Regions from separate parts of the Homo sapiens genome. Here region 2 is linked to region 1. Evidence: fine-mapped expression QTL. Tissue or cell type: whole blood. Region 1 holds a variant in brackets; the other region holds the start of a gene. All regions are shown on one strand. Distances are from middle to middle.

The links. PIP is the estimated chance that this variant, and not a neighbour inherited with it, causes the effect.
Region 2: it holds the start of ATRN, and the variant in region 1 is fine-mapped to the expression of ATRN in whole blood (TOPMed, PIP above 0.99).

Annotation. Positions count from the first base shown.
Region 1 is chr20:3,613,282-3,621,384 of GRCh38, forward strand. All of the region lies in intron 24 of ATRN (attractin), which reads left to right. Among named protein-coding and RNA genes, the nearest start is that of GFRA4, 46 kb to the right of the region's middle. RefSeq lists a silencer at 7,713-7,912. The variant T/C (reference allele first, on the strand shown) is at 3,718.
Region 2 is chr20:3,466,879-3,474,981 of GRCh38, forward strand. ATRN (attractin) reads left to right here and starts at 4,140. Exons shown (of 29, transcript NM_139321.3): 1 at 4,140-4,639. The coding sequence starts at 4,230. RefSeq lists an enhancer at 3,727-3,866 and a silencer at 3,967-4,526.

The DNA of each region.
Region 1 (8,103 bases):
GCACTATTCACTGTGACTAGGCCCGTGTCACCGTGTGTTCTCAGTCCTCGCATGAGAGCCTGGTTGACACTGGTTCTCTCTGCTTTGGGGACCGTATCTGGCTGTGCGCTATGTGGAGGGCTGAGCTCGTGTCTTCCTGGGTAAATACATCATGTTCTCAACAAGGGCTGCATGTTTCTTTATTGCTGTTTTTTCCCCAGAGACTTAGCTTTTCTAGGTGTGTAGCATGGCTCTTAAATACACACATTTAGCAACTGTGCAAATTCAGTAAAAATGGAGAGACTTATTTAAGGAAGACAGTAGGGAAATGTCTAAATAGTGCAGTGTAGGCCATTCAGTTAAATTTCAGTATGGCTTTCGATGCAGGCAAAGCCGTTTTGCCTTTGATTCTCATTTTTTAAATTAGATTTTAAAAATTGAGATTCTCCTTTTTTAAATGAGATTTTAAAAATTGAGATTCTCCTTTTTTAAATGAGATTTTAAAAATTGAGATTCTCCTTTTTTAAATGAGATTTTAAAAATTGAGATTCTCCTTTTTTAAATGAGATTTTAAAAATTGAGATTCTCATTTTTTAAATGAGATTTTAAAAATTGAGATTCTCATTTTTTTAAAGCAAAGTAACTGAGGAAATCTAATTCTCTAGTTGGAAATTTGTGTAAGCATTGGGGCTTTAAAAATGGTAATACTAAACTCAAGTTCCTTCACTCTGAACCAATCCCAGGATTCTTTTCCATAATTAGGAACAGATCAAAACCTATAACTGCTGAGGGAATTTGAAACTGACTATAAAAATCTTTGTAGATGCAGCTAAAAAACAAACAAAACCCACAGACTGAAAAGTCCTGTTTCTGGGAGGGTGGCGGGTGTGTTGGGGCCGGTTGTGCCTGTTTTTTGATTGGTTGTTCCTGTGGGTGAGCACCCTTCCCTCTGCCCCTGCTTTCTGAAAGCTATCCTAGTTGTTCTCCCCAGTAAGCCGGGGCTCAGCCGGCTTCAGCTATGTCCATAGTTTGGGGGCGTGGGCGGTAGGTATTCAAGATAGAAGATGGTTGGACAGAAAGTGTGTGAGGTGGGAAGGTGGAGTGGTGAGGCTCTGGCTCGTTCCCGACTCTGCAACAGAGGTTGTTACTGTAATGTGGAGCTAATATAGAAGTCTGCGTGCTGGGTGTTTCATCTACTGTTTTATGTAAGAGGCCAGTGTTCACAAGTAAAGGCAACACAGAATTGGTATTGAGAACTGGGCATTCATTTAGATTTTAGAGTTCTGTTTATGGGTGCTAACAGGATCGCTATACTGAGCAAGGGATGTGTGAAACTTTTGTTCACTTGGATGTGCTTTTTTTCTTATAACAGCTTTATTGAGACATCATTTACATACCATACAGTTCGCTCATTTAAAGTACACAATTCAGTGGTTTTCAGTGTATTCACAGAAGCGTGCAGCCACCCGTCACTACAGCCAATTTTAGAATATTTTCACCACTTCCAGAAGAAGCCCCTAGCAGTCAGTCCTCATTCCCCCCTCTTCCGGCAACCCCCAGTCTGTATTTCCTGTCTCTGTGGATTTGCCTATTCTGGACATTTTATATAAATTGAGTCACATGATATGCTCTCACTTAGCATACTGTTTTCAAGGTTCACCCGTGTTTAGTATGTTTCAGTACTTATTCCTTGTCATAGCTGAATAATCTTCCTTATATGTATATACCACGTTTTGTTTATCCATTTTTCTATCGATGGATGCTTGGGTGGTTTTCACTCTTTGGCTATTATGAATAGTGTCAGATATACTTTTAATGTTTATATTTATTGTATAATAACAGTGCATATCCGTACCTCCTGGTGTTAATTGTCTGTATCTTAAGAGTTTTAAGAATTATATGGTTGTGCTGTAATTCTAGCACTTAGGGAGGCCGAGGCGGGCAGATCGCTTTAGCTCAGGAGTTTGAGACCAGGCTGGGCAACATAGTAAAACCCTGTCTCTACTAAAGTACAAAAAATTAGCTGGGCGTGGTGAAGTGTTCCTGTAGTCCCAGCTACTTGCAAGGCTGAGGCACAAGAATCACTTGAACCCAGGAGGCAGATGTTGCAGCGAGCCAAGATTGCACCACTGTACTGCAGCCTGAGCGACAGAGCAAGACTCCTGTCTCCAAAAAAAAAAAAAATTTTTCTTTATGATGAAACCCACAAGGCTGTACAAGAACCTTAAATATAGTTTGAAACAAAGAAAGACACATGCTTTTAAGTACAGTTTAATTCTTTTCTTTTTTCTTTTTTCTTTTTTTTTTTTTTTGGAGACAGAGTCTCACTCTGTCGCCCAGGCTGGAGTACAGTGGTGCAATCTTGGCTCGCTGCAACATCTGCCTCCTGGGTTCAAGTGATTCTCGTGCCTCAGCCTTGCGAGTAGCTGGGACTACAGGAACACTTCACCACGCCCAGCTAATTTTTTGTATTTTAGTAGAGACAGGGTTTTACCATGTTGCCCCCATCATTCTCAGCAAACTATCGCAAGGACAAAAAACTGAACACCGCTTGTTCTCATTCATAGGTGCAAACTGAACAATGAGGACGCATGGACACAGGAAGGGGAACATCACACACCAGGGCCTGTTGTGGGGTGGGGGGAAGGGGAAGGGATAGCATTAGGGGATATACCTAATGTTAAATGACGAGTTAATGGGTGCAGCACACCAACATGGCATATGTATACATATGTAACAAACCTGCATGTTGTGCACATGTACCCTAAAACTTAAAGTATAATTAAAAAAAAAAAAAAGAAAAATGTGTTATTCCTTTGTCTCGAAAGTCCCCTGCTTTTCAGCTTTCGCTTTGGTTGTCTCTTGTCAGCTCTTTAATGCTATTGTTCCCTTGGGTTTCATCTGGACTCTTTTTCCCTGGGCAATCTCATCCACACCATCTGGGAACATTGCCTTTGGCTGGACAGGTAAATCTTTGTCTCTAGCAGACTTCTCTCCTGTGATCTCCAGAGCCAGGAACCCACTAGACTTCCTTAAAATTCATTCAGCCAGCAGACTTTCTGGCCCAGAGCAGCAGCTGTGAGTGGACAGCAGGCACCTCGTTAGAAGCTCGGTGTTGGAGGTGTGCCCATGCATTCCTGGGAGCCATGAGAGGGGAGGGGAGTGCCCTGTGTCACCTGAGTCCAAGTTAAGAGAGATCACACCAGAGCTGATTCCTAAGGAGCATGGGGGCGGGGGAAGGGGGTGTTCGTGGTGGGGAAAGGAAATGACCAGCCCTTTCAGGAACTACCAGGAGTTTAGCAGAGCTGGTGACAGTGCTATGAGCAAGAAGGTGGAGAGCTGGGGAGGGCCATTATGAAGAGACTGGAGATTGCAGGCTGTGAACTTGAGTCCTGATGTGACTGGGAATTGTTGAGATGTTTTAGGCCGAAAAGTCACCGACGATCAGTGTTTAGAAAGACCCCACTGGCAGCAGTTGGGAGTGTGGATTGGAAGGAGCCAGGCCTAAGTCCTGGGAGGACTTAGGAGGTCCAGGAGTCCAGGGAGTCCAGGTGGAATTCTTGTGTAGAAACCCAGGGAAGGGGACCATCTGATGACACACATCCCATAGCAACTTCCTTTCCTCCTCTGCACCTCCACAGCAGAGTGTCTGTTTCCACTATACGAAGATTTCTTAATGGCAAGGATCGCATTTTTATCCCTCAGTGTCCTCAGTGTCATGTGCTAATCAGTTGGAGA[T/C]ACTCCCTAAATGTATGCCAGATGAGTATATAGTTGTTAGTATAAGGGCTTTACGGTAGGTATCAGAACTTTTTCTTTTTTACAACTTTTATAACTTTTATAAAGGAGCCGACACCTTTTTCTGATATTGTCAGAACAATTGCTGACCAGTGCTATGGGCTGGCTGAGGTTGGCAACCAAGAATCTGTTATCTCAGTCTACACAGCGTGGAGTTAGAAGATTGGATTGTTGTTGGTTAGAATTTTGTCCAGAGAGTTAGAAGATAGAAGAAAAGGGAGGGCTGAGGACATAAACATCCAAATTTTACAAAGAAGAAAGTTCAGTGCTCCTGTCAATATTGAAATAGTTAAGAGGGAAATGATTGGGTCTGGGGAATGCTTCAAAATAATATGATCATAGGGAAAGTAAGTGTAGTGTGGATGAAACAAGGTTGGCCTTGAGCTGATAATTTACTAAAGCAGGATGATGAGCGTGTGAGGTTCATTATAGTGCTCTTTCTACTTTTTAAAAAGCTTAAGATTTTCCAAAATGAAAAAGAAGCTGAGCATGGTAGCTCATGTCTGTAATCCCAGCACTTTGAGAGCCTGAGACGGAAGGATCACTTGAAGCCAGGAGTTCGAGACCAGCCTGGGCAATATAGTGAGACCCCCATCCCTACTAAAAAAGAAAAAAAATTACACAATGAAAAGAATAATACAGGTGGTAGAAGAAGAAATAAAGGTATGAGTATATGATTTGGCCTCCTACAGACAGCTACAGGAGCATGCCTCTGCTGGGCGGGCCTGGAGCATAGTGCACCCTGGAGCTGAAGTTCTGTTCGCCTTTACAGGAAGTACACAGCATTGTACGGGGGTTTTACCAGTTAACAGTGGACAGTCTCTAGAACACTCAGGGGTCAGGGGCAAAACTCCCTCTCCCTCAAACCAGCCCACCTGTCTTGGTGAGAATGGAAAACGGAGCTTCCCAGCAAGCCTCCTGCCTTCACCCCGACGCACAGGTGCATCAGGGTCTGAGGGCTCCTCCCTGTGGGGCCTGGGAAGCCGCCCTTCAGTGGGCTATGGCTGCATTGTCTTCTGATCTTGTAGCTGTGTGTGGGTAACAGGCACATCGTCTCCCCATATCCCAGAGAGTCATGTCCACTTCCTATCTGTGGTGGCATCTTTCCATCACTGTCACCCTCAGGATAATGGCACAGGAACTAACAGAGGCACTAAGAGCAGTGATATATACTGGAGGGAGGGGCGGGGCTGATGACCAAAATCACCTTCTGTTTCAGTAAGAGGTTGGTTAAAGTGATGCCTAAAATGGATAGATCAGGAAATAACAATAAAAACATTAATGATAAAAAGGCAACTGCCAGAAGAACTGAAAAGTAACCTAGTTCAAGGTGGGGGTCCCTGGAGAGAAGCCTTCAGAAGAGCAGAGGAAGAGCAGGGAACATTGCTTTTCATGACTAGCCTTTCAGTACCTTTTGATATTTCAGCTAAGTATGTAGTTCTCTAATGATTTCTAAATTGTTAATGAGTGTGATAGAATAGGAATTCTGGAGAATGGTCAAAAGGAATTGCTAGGAGAAAATTAGGGAAAGAAAGCACAGAGCAGTATTGAGGTGGGAGGTTGGGAGCAGACAGATGGTGAGTGTTCGTTTGCATGGCAGGAATGAGTGGCTGAATGGCATTAACTGGCCATGGGGCTCTGACCAGAGCTTGGGTATACAGTTTCTGTGCCAGCACAAACCAGCATTAGGTGCGTGGTGTGTGAGGCCGGGTGATGGTCATATGGATCTGGTCCAGAGCTGTGGTCTTGACATAGAGTTCCATGTATGAACTTTGGTGGTGGTGGTGGTTTTGTTTCGTTTTTTAAGAAAAAAGGAAGAGTTGTTTTATGTCACAGCCAAACTCAAGGAGGTGACAGCACAAGACCCAGGTTAGAATGTACTTAGCCAGGGCTCACGGAATCTTCCATCCTTTGCAAAGCCAAGAAGAGTAGAGGCCTCAAGGAGAATAGAGGAGCACATGGGCTCCTTCTGGGCTGAGCTCTCACCCTTGGTGGGGCCGCTGGTCCCAGGGGGTCGTTGGGAGCCTGCGGAGATTCTGCCCAGTACATACATACCTTGCGTTTTCTCGGAGCCTGACAGGTGCTGCCTTGAAGCGGAAAGACTTCACCTCACAGGGTGGCCAGCTGTCCTTTCTCTTCCTCTCCCTGTCTTGTGTGCTCATGATAATGGATAGATAGACATCTCCATGGTAGAAATAATGCAGCCCTTTCTGCAGTCCATGGTTCCACAGCATATGGTCAGTAGACTTAGATGAGTGCTACATAAAGTGTAATTAGTTCTGCACCACGGTGTCTTACCTTCTGAAAAGGAAACTCTGGTATTGACTTAGAAATGCCAGTTTTATCCTTCCGACCAGAACGCAAGTCCTGAATGAGGCCAGAGGCCAATGAAAGGTCCTTTCTTCTCTCTTTTCAAATCTGCTGTATTAAACAGTGACTTTTCCTAGTCATTCAGTATTCATTCATTCATCCATTTATTCAAGTTTTTGAGTACCTTCTTTGTGGATGGCACATAGTAGATGCAAAAATACAATCATTTTTAAAATGGAAAGCATTTGTTATGTGGTAGTGGAATATAAGAAATGCCATGCTTCCATATTTTTATGGTAATCTTGGACTCAGGTTCTACCCACCATACTTAATTAGAAATTCATTCTCAGCCTCTGTTTTGGCAGAGACCCATTCTCTTCCCTCAGGAACATACAGAAACCTCAGGGCTGAACTGAGCTCAGAGGTTGGGGAAGGTCCCCTGGTCTGATCTTCAGTCGCTGACTGCTGCGCCCGATTCCCTGGCCCCTCACTCTTGAGGGCAGCATCCTCACTCTTGTGTGGCACAGGCTTGGACATAGAATGACACTTAAGCACCAGAGCCTCCCTAGCCTGCCACAAGGACACCCTACATTCCCAGGCACTTTCAGAATGCAAAACCTCCCCTCCATTCCCTCCCTTTCCCTGCCTCCAGGTTTGGGCCCTGCCTCTCCTTTTGTTTCAAAGCACTGTCCTCTCTTCCTCTACCCTTATCCTTCCCCATCTCCCTCCCACTCCCCAAAAGAGCCAAACTAATTATGGGGATTTAACCTTCCAATTAAAGGCGAGGATTTTTTTTTTTCAATGCAGTTCCTGAAATGCTAAAGAAATTGTCCAGGGAAAGGAGCACAGGAGGAGTTTTGTTTTGTTTTGTTTTGTTTTGTTTTGTTTTGTTTTGTTTTGAGACAGTCTCGCTCTGTCACCCAGGCTGGAGTGCAGTGGTGCGATCTTGGCTTACCGCAACCTCTCCACCTCCTGGGTTTGAGCAATTCTTGTGCCTCAGCCCCCCAAGTAGCTGGGATCACAGGTGCACACCACCACGCCAGCTAATTTTTGTATTTTTAGTAGAAATGGGGTTTTGCCATGTTGGCCAGGCTGGTTTCGACCTCCTGGCCTCAAGTGATCCACCCACCTCAGCCTCCCAAAGTACTGGGATTAGGCGTGAGCCACTGCATCCAGCCTGATGTTTAAATAATTTCTTACTTCAGAGTTTCCTGAAGTGTGGCCTATGGAGACTAGCATCAGAATCACTGGAGGAGCTTAAAGATATAGAGACAGGGATAGGGCCTGAGATTCTGACTTTGTTGTAAGCTATCCAGAGTTTGAGAGCCATGGCCTAGTTCTTGGAATACAAAAGTGTATCTGCTCTTGTATGGGAGGTAGGAAGTTACCTTTTCATTCATTCTTCTACAACAGTAATTTAAAAGTTAGGAATTGGTGTCTTCATAGACAGAAGAATGCAGGAATCCTCTTCTCAGGATGTCTGTCTTTACACAGCCATGGTATATGGTAGACCAAGTTTGTCCAACCCATGGCCCGCGGGCTACATGCAGCCCAGGACGGCTTTGAATGCAGCCCAACACAATTCATAAACTTTCTTAAAACATGATTTTTTTATTTTATTTTTTTTTAAGCTCATCAGCACTATCGTTAGTGTTAGTGTTAGTGTATTTTATGTGTGGCCAAAGACAATTCTTCCAGTGTGGCCTAGGGAAGCCAAAAGATTGGACACCCCTATATAGACCATAATTATCACACGCCCTGAGAGGGAAGCAGATCAATGGTGAGGGAGCGTAGAGGAGAGCCTGCCAGAGTTTCCAGTGGGGCCGGGGATGCTTAAAAACGGAGGCAGTGATGTGCTGAGCCAGAAAGGACAGGGAGGACCCCCATGCACACAGGCAGGGAGGCTCTCTGGTGACATCTGCCGTCAGGTACAGTAGTACAGTAGTAGAGTGAGCGGAAGCACTTTTGGCTGAAGTGCAACATTAGTGATTGAGGAAGTGCAGGTCCGTAATATCTTAC
Region 2 (8,103 bases), 150 kb before region 1:
GGGCTCTATCTTGCTTCCTTCACTGTGTTTCTTCCGAGAGCAATCTTCCAATGAATTATGCACTCAGATCCTGTTTCAGGGTTCTGCTTCTAGGGAATCTGACCAAAGACACTGCATGAGTAAAAGCCAAAAATTATAAAATCCATCTATGTCCATGACTTGGAGACAATGCAAGCAAAGAAACAGGAAGAGATGACATGAAATCAGAGAAAGGGCCAAGGTGAGTAAGATGCCTTACTTAAGTGAAAAAGAATAGGCATAGGCACCTTCAAACCATCCTGCACTAACCTAGTGGAGACAAACCCTTTTGGTCATGCAGTTGGCAAGAACAATGTTATTTTAGTGTCTGGACTTAGAGTAATTTGTATCAAAGCCTGGGTATTCTTTGCCACTGGCATTACAGTTTCTGGGACCTGGAAATGACCACCATGACAAAGACCAGTGGAAAAAAAGGGATTTCAGGCAGAACTGCTGCAGAATCTTGCTGATAAGGCACTGGGGTACAACAGAGGCACTTCTGAAGCTACGGTGACTACGGTGACCTCCTTCATGAGAAGCAACTGGACAATGATACTAGTGTATTACATATAGATGACTAGTTGTAGATTATACATTTATATACAATTATACTGTCGTTCTTAATTCTTAATCAAGTCCACATCACAAGACTTATTCTTGTCCTTGGAGGAACCAGGGTACAGAGTATTCTGGTAATTTATTATTGTGTAACGAACTGTCCCCAGTTGGCTCATTTATTTGCTTATGTATCTGCAGTTTGGGGCGGGTTCAGCAGGAACAACACCCCCCTGCTTCATGATTGGGGCCCCAACTGGGAAGACTTGAATGGCTGGGGGCTGGCTTCCTCACAGCATGGTGGTCTCAGGGTAGCTGGACATCTTTTATGGCAAGTGTTCCAAGACACTTCAGGAGGAAGCTGCAAGACTTCTTATGACCTAGCATAAAGTCCCATTTCTGGGACCTCAGAAATCCCAGTACATCACTTCCACCATAGTCTATCAGTCAAGCAAATCACTAAGGCCAGGCTAGATTCAGAGTGGGGTGGGGGTGGGGGTGGGGGTGGGGCCGGGGCCAAGGGTTAGACCTGATCTCTCCATAGAAGGAATGTAAGAGAATTTGCAGCCATCTTTAATCTATCACACAGACATAGAATGTGTAGGGGACTTTTTGATAAACGCAGTAAAGGAAAAAGAAGATAGCAGGTAAGATTTTGTTTCTTTGTTTATTTGTTTTTAGAGACAGGGTCTTGATCTGTTGCCCAGGCTGGAGTGCAGTGGTCCAAACATAGCTTACTGCAGCCTCAAACTCCTGGGCTCTGTGATCCCCCTGCCCCAGCCTCCCAAGTAGCTGGGACTACACATGCACGCCACCACATCTGACTAATTTTTTAAAAAATTTTTTGTAGAGACAAGGTCTCACTATGTTGTCCAGGCTGGTCTCAAACTCCTGGCCTCAGGTGATCCTCCCACCTTGGCCTCCCAAAGCACTGGGATTACAGGCATGAGCCACTGCACCCAGCGTGTTTGTTTTTTAAGGACAAAATAATTTGAGCATGTTTGAAAGCTAAGGAAAAAGAACCAGAGAAGAGAGTAGATTAAGGAAGTAAGAAAGAATGTTTGCTGCAGCAAGATTCTAAGGCTTCAGAGTAGCAATATCTAGTCTAGGGATTGCTGTTCTTCAGATGCACACCTTTTCTGTTATCCCTGAATGTTGGTAAAATCATGTGAAACTTCACAGTGTGGGTTCAGTCTTGCTGTGGGGAGGGAAGGGAAGGAAAGGGCTGGTTCACTTCTGGCCTGGAAGATTAGGGGGAGCAATGTCTCCTACAGCTAGGGCATGGCCTATGCCAGCCTCCCCATCTGATGGGGTCCTGCCAGAGGGTAGGGCCATGTCTTCAATTTCAAAATCCTACATGGCAAAAACATAACCTGCAAACCAGAATGTCAGTGCTAGGGCCTAGGCCGAACAATAGTTTTCCTGTAGGAATGGGGAGTATGTGTGGATGTAGAGCTGGGGGTAAGGCTTTTGTGCAATTCAGCTTCACCAGGCTTGAAGAAGATGCAGTGAGGACAGTCAGGACCTGAGTATGAGAGTGGGACCTGGGTATGAGTGTGGAAATCCATCTTAGAACCTTAAAATTCCATACTCTGAGGTAAAGCTGAGAGGCTCCACAGGTCTATGAGGGTTTTTCTTTGTTTCCCAGGGACTGTAAGGTGCCCAGATTCTGAGGTAGGTGCCATAGGAATATTCCTCATAGCACAAGCATTATGTCGGACAATGTTCTGCTTATCTATTACTGAGTAACAAACCTCTCTAAAACTTAGAGGCTTAAAATAACATAAATCATAATTTATGAAAAATTATAAATAATTCATCACTTAAGGGTTAAATGATAAATGAGTTATTTCTTAGGATTTTGGATAAGTCACAGTTAGGAAAGACCTGTTACTGTTGTAGGTAACATGGAACAGCCCAGACGGTTGGAATAACCCAACCCAGATAGCTTCTTCACTCAATGACTGATCCCTTAGCTAGGATGGCTCCACCAGCTGAGCGGCCCAGCTCTCCCTCTCCAAGTCCAAGTGGTCTCTGCACATGGTTTCTCTCCAGCAAGGTGGCTAACGGGGTGCAGCTCATGACCACCAACAGCTCAAAATCAAGGCTGCCAGGTCTTTTTTTTTTTTTGAGACAGAGTCTCGCTCTGTCCCCCAGGCTGGAGTGCAGTGGCGCGATCACGACTCTCTGCAACCTCTGCCTCCTGGATTCAAGCGACTCTCCTGAGTAGCTGGGATTACAGGTGTGTGCCACCACGCCCGGCTAATTTTTGTATTTTTTGTAGAGACAGGGTTTCACCACGTCGATCAGGGTGGTCTCGAACTTCTGACCTCGTGATCTGCCCGCCTCGGCCTCCCAAGGTGCTGGGATTACAGACGTGAGCCACCGTGCCCGGCCAAGGCTGCCAGGTCTTTTTTAAGCTCAGAGCTAGAAACAAGACATTGCTACTCCTACCAACTTCTTCTATTGGTGAAATTGAGTCATGGTTTCTCATGGTCTCAATCATGACCCAGCCCAGATTCCAGGGTCAAGGACCATAAAAGGCTACATTGATGGAAGACATGTCTCATTGAGGGACACCAGAGTAACAACTACCAGACAAGAAGGGGCAGGTCTGTGTGAGCGCCATTTCCTAATTCTATATTGCCCACTCTTCAGAGAAGATGGTTGGAGGGCAAATTGTGGGGAGCAAGGTAACTCCAAACTTTTACAGAATTAAAGGTAGGGGGTCTGGTCAGCTACAGTCCATCTGTTATCAAGAGGCCTGGCTGTGTGTCTTCATTCAGTTTATTAGGCATTTACTGAGCACAGCCTACATGCCAGGTTCTTCATTTTTTGACACAGGGTCTTGTGTTGCCCAGGCTGGAGTGCAGTGCTGCGACTGCGGCTCACTGCAGCCTTGACCTCTCCAGACTCAAGCGATCCTCCTGCCTCAGCCTCTGGAGTAGCTGGGGATACAGGCGCGCACCACCATGCTCGGCTAATTTTTGTATTTTTAGTAGAGACAGTGTCTCACCCTGTTGGCCAGGCTGGTCTCGGATCCCAGAGATCAAGTGATCCGCCTGCCTCAGTTTCCCAAAGTGCTGGGATTACAGGCGTAAGCCTCCGCGCCCGGCCTATGCCAGGTTCTACATGTGTTCTTTCTTGACTCTTGTGTTACAGAGGCTCGAATGAAGCCTGGCTTCTACAGTACCGCACCCAGCACCTCGCTGCGATGCAGCCTCCTGTACCCTTTCCGTCCGGCAGCTGGAGTTAGGGCAGAGTGCCGGGTCTCTAGGAGGGCAACACTCAACGCAGTCGGCTCCTAGGCATCCAGTGGGGCTGCAACCCCGCCGCCGGGGACGAAAGGCGAAGGGGGAAAACTAGAGCTTTCGCCGGCCGGGACAGCGCAGCCGGGTTTCAGCTCGTTCTACGGTCCACGTCAGAAGATCGCCTCCGGCGCCGCGGACGCCGGAGACCACTGTCTGCGCCCCCGCACGCACGCACCCACGTACTCGCGCACGCGCGCGCCGGCCCCGCCCACCGCCCCGCTGTGGCCCCTTTGGACCGCACGAGCCACCGTCCGCACAGCCCCGCCCCGCACGGCCAGGCGAAGCGGAGCCGGCCGTGCGGTGTGTGTGTATGTGTTCGCGGGGCGCCGTCTCAGCCCCGGGAAGATGGTGGCTGCAGCGGCGGCAACTGAGGCAAGGCTGAGGAGGAGGACGGCGGCGACGGCAGCGCTCGCGGGCAGGAGCGGCGGGCCGCACTGGGACTGGGACGTGACCAGGGCTGGGAGGCCGGGGCTGGGGGCCGGGCTGCGCCTCCCGCGGCTGCTGTCTCCACCGCTGCGGCCACGGCTGCTGCTGCTGCTGTTGTTGCTCTCGCCGCCGCTGCTGCTGCTGCTGCTGCCCTGTGAGGCCGAGGCCGCGGCGGCGGCGGCGGCGGTGTCGGGCTCAGCCGCAGCCGAGGCCAAGGAATGTGACCGGCCCTGTGTCAACGGCGGTCGCTGCAACCCTGGCACCGGCCAGTGCGTCTGCCCCGCCGGCTGGGTGGGCGAGCAATGCCAGCACTGCGGGGGCCGCTTCAGGTGAGTGGCGGGTGGTGTCGGAGGGTCGGGTCCAACCAGAGGCTGGGGCTGAGGGGCGTTCGAGACGGCTCCAGGTCAGAGGGAGATGCTGGACAGAAAGTGGAGAGGGTAGGGCCGCCCTATGGGGTTTGAGGGCCATTTGCTTCCGGGGAGATCATCGTCTCTGGCCTGGGGTCTTTCTCTGTTGGAAGGTGAAAAGGTGTGGGGCAAGGGTGGGGGCACCCCGACGGTATTTGGGTGCTTAGGTTAGTTAGATGGGAAGAATGCTGAGGGACCCAAAGAGCATCAAAGCCGATCGCTCTAAAACTCGGCGTGTTTCAGCTAAACGAGGTATCCAAGGAAAGGTGGTCGAGCCAGGTTTGCTTGAACACTTCCTTTTAACATCCACATGTGCCCTAGGACCCGATGAGTTCCCCGATGCACTGGAGATGTGGGGTGCTCTGAAGAAACAGGGCCCTGGAAATGCTTTGTTGGCTGGAGATAAAAGGGAAAGGGTAGCATTGTAAGATATTAGGGATAGAAGGACCAGTGGTCCTTCTAAAGGAAAGTGAGGAAACTAGCCTTTTGGCAAAAGCTCCCTGGAGGTGGCAAATTGGAATAGGGTCTGTGGTGAAGAGGGAATGGAAGGAGATTCCTATTTGCCTTGGTTTCTGGACAATATGAAGTTCTGAATTGGCTTAGTTTGGGGCAGTTCCTCTTGGAGAAATCAATAAATTAATTAGCAGTTATCGTTATTTGCTTCAGTTGTGCAATGATTTTCCAGATAATACAGACAGATTAGCCAGACTTTGGCCTTGTCCACAGGGAGTTTGGAATATAGCAAGAGAAAGATAATGTGCGCACATAACCCTAGTCATAAGGGTTACAGAGTCATTCACGCCTTTGACAGGTATTTAGCTTACTGAACACATGTCTGATGTGGGGGAGTGGGGAAATGTGAACAAGACAGACAGGGCCTCTGCTCTCATTGACCTTAACATTCTAGTGGGAGCAACAGGCACTTAACAAGTAAATAAATGAGAGAAATAAACATGGTAATTTCAGGTAATGGTAAATGCTATCAAGAAAATAAAAACAGCGTGGTCTGATAGAGAATTATAACCGGTGGTGACTCTTGGAGAGGGTTCTCATTTGAAATGACATTTGATCTGAGACCTGAATGAGGCAACAGGGAACTTGTGGGAATTCAGGGATGGAGAGGTTGTGGCTAGCTGGAGGGATGCAAGGAGGACTTTGAGGAGGCGGTAACATTGGATTTGAGCATGTAAGGTTAAGTAGGATTTGGAAATGTGGAGCTGGAAAAAAATTACAGATGGAAAGAAGGGTGCAAACAAAGTTGTGGAGGCTGGAAAGTAAAGTTTTGCTGCTGCCTATGTGGAAGAGAGTTGTGAGAGAGGAGTTTGGAATAGCAAAATTGTAGACTTAGGTAATATTAGGTCTTCTGAGGAACTCAGAGAACGTTGAGCAGATGAGCTCTTTAGTTTTATGGATGGAGAAACCAAGTTACTTCAGGACCACTGATGCAGTGAAGCTGCTTTTGTAACTTAGGGTGTTCTGATTTATGAATTCCATTAACCTACATGTATTTGTTGAGGGCTCCTATGTTTTAGGTTGTGAGATACAGTGGTATACAAGACAGGCACAGTCCTGCTCTTACGGAGCTCACATTTCAGCTTGGGAGTAAAAAAATCCAACAAAAATTTTATTGTAATTTTGTTTAAGGCTGTGGAGGTAAAGAGCAGGAGACAAACAGAGGACTTGACTTAGTCTAGGGGTAAGGTAAGTCACTGAGGAAGCGATGTGAAGTCTGAGGGGTGAGATGGTACTACCTGCGTGAGGGGTGGGGTGCTGAGGGGCCAGCAGGTACAGAGGCTTGGGGTTGAAGCGGATGGAAGGCCAGGTGGCAGGAGCAGAGAGAGCAAAGGGGAGCTTGGCAAGACTGGAGAGAAAGGCGGGAAGCCAGGCCAAGTGGAGATCTGTGGGTTGGATTGAGAATTTTGACCTTTAGCCCAAGAGCTGTGAAATGGCGTAGTTCACGCCTATTTTCATGACATTATAGGCTTTTAGATTGGAGCCAGAATACAAATGGCCTTGAAGGTGAGGCCAGGGCATTTTCCATTTGAGAAGCTTCCAAGGTCAGGTGAATGGATGGTTGAGTCAGACGAGGATCCTTCAAGTTCTGAAAACCTGGGACACTGTGGTAGGCAGTGGGGACCAGCGGTGTGGGAAGGGGACTTCATAGCAAGATCAATCTGTAATGTTCAGAGTAGGTACACTCACTTTGGGCATGAGAGATAGGGGGCAGCTAGGTGGGATCTGTTGGCATGGGTCAGAGCAGTGGTAATGAGAGCTTGTAGAGGTGAAATGGACAAGTCTTCCGTGTAAACTGGTTTGCTCTTGGAAAGGTGGGGGATGGTGAGGGAAAGAAAACTAGATCCTGTCTTGGGTGGTTGAGAGGACAGTGATACCATTAACAGACACAGGGACACAGGAGCAGGTGTTAGACATTTAATTGCATGCATGCTGAGTTTGGGGTGCTCTCAGAGTACACACCTGGCAGATGTTAAGTTTGGAGTCATCGACCTATGAGGGAGATTGCCAGGGAGCTCTCTCTGAGAGTCCACATGGAAAGCCCAGAGGATTGGATAAGAGCTACTTGTTGCAGGGAACAGGCAGTCCTGACACTGGTTGTCTCAAATAGTGTCACAGGTGAGTGAAGGGACTCCCCTGCTTATTGTGGACATTCCCTTTGAGCTGATTCTAGGTGATGTCAGTGCTGTTTCCTGGGTAGACAATTATGACTTTGGTCCTGATGATACCATTATATTTTGTGGGCTTTGGGATTTTGCATTTTTAAAAATGAAAGTAGGAGGAACTTATGACTCTGGTCTTTTAAAAAAAACTCAGTAGGCCAGGCGTGGTGGCTAACACCTGTAATCCCAGCACTTTGGGAGGCCGAGGCGGTGTATCACGAGGTCAGGAGATCGAGACCATCCTGGCTAACTTGGTGAAACCCCGTCTCCACTAAAAATACAAAAAATTAGCCGGGCGTGGTGGCGGGCACCTGTAGTCCCAGCTACTCGGGAGGCTGAGGCAGGAGAATGGCGTGAACCCGGGAGGCAGAGCTTGCAGTGAGCCGAGATCGCACCACTGCACTCCAGCCTGGGTGACAGAGCGAGAGTCCATCTCAAAACAACAACAACAACAACAAAAACTCAATAAAATTTTAGTCGAGGCCAAGCGCGGTGACTCACGCCTGTAATCCCAGCACTTTGGGAGGCTGAGGCGGGCAGATCAAGAGGTTAGGAGTTGAGACCAGCCTGGCCAACATAGTGAATCCCCGTCTCTACTAAAAATACAAAAAATTACCTGGGCATGGTGGCAGGCGCCTGTGATCCCAGCTACTCGGGAGGCTGAGGCAGGAGAATTGCTTGAACCCGGGAAGCGGAGGTTGCAGAGAGCCG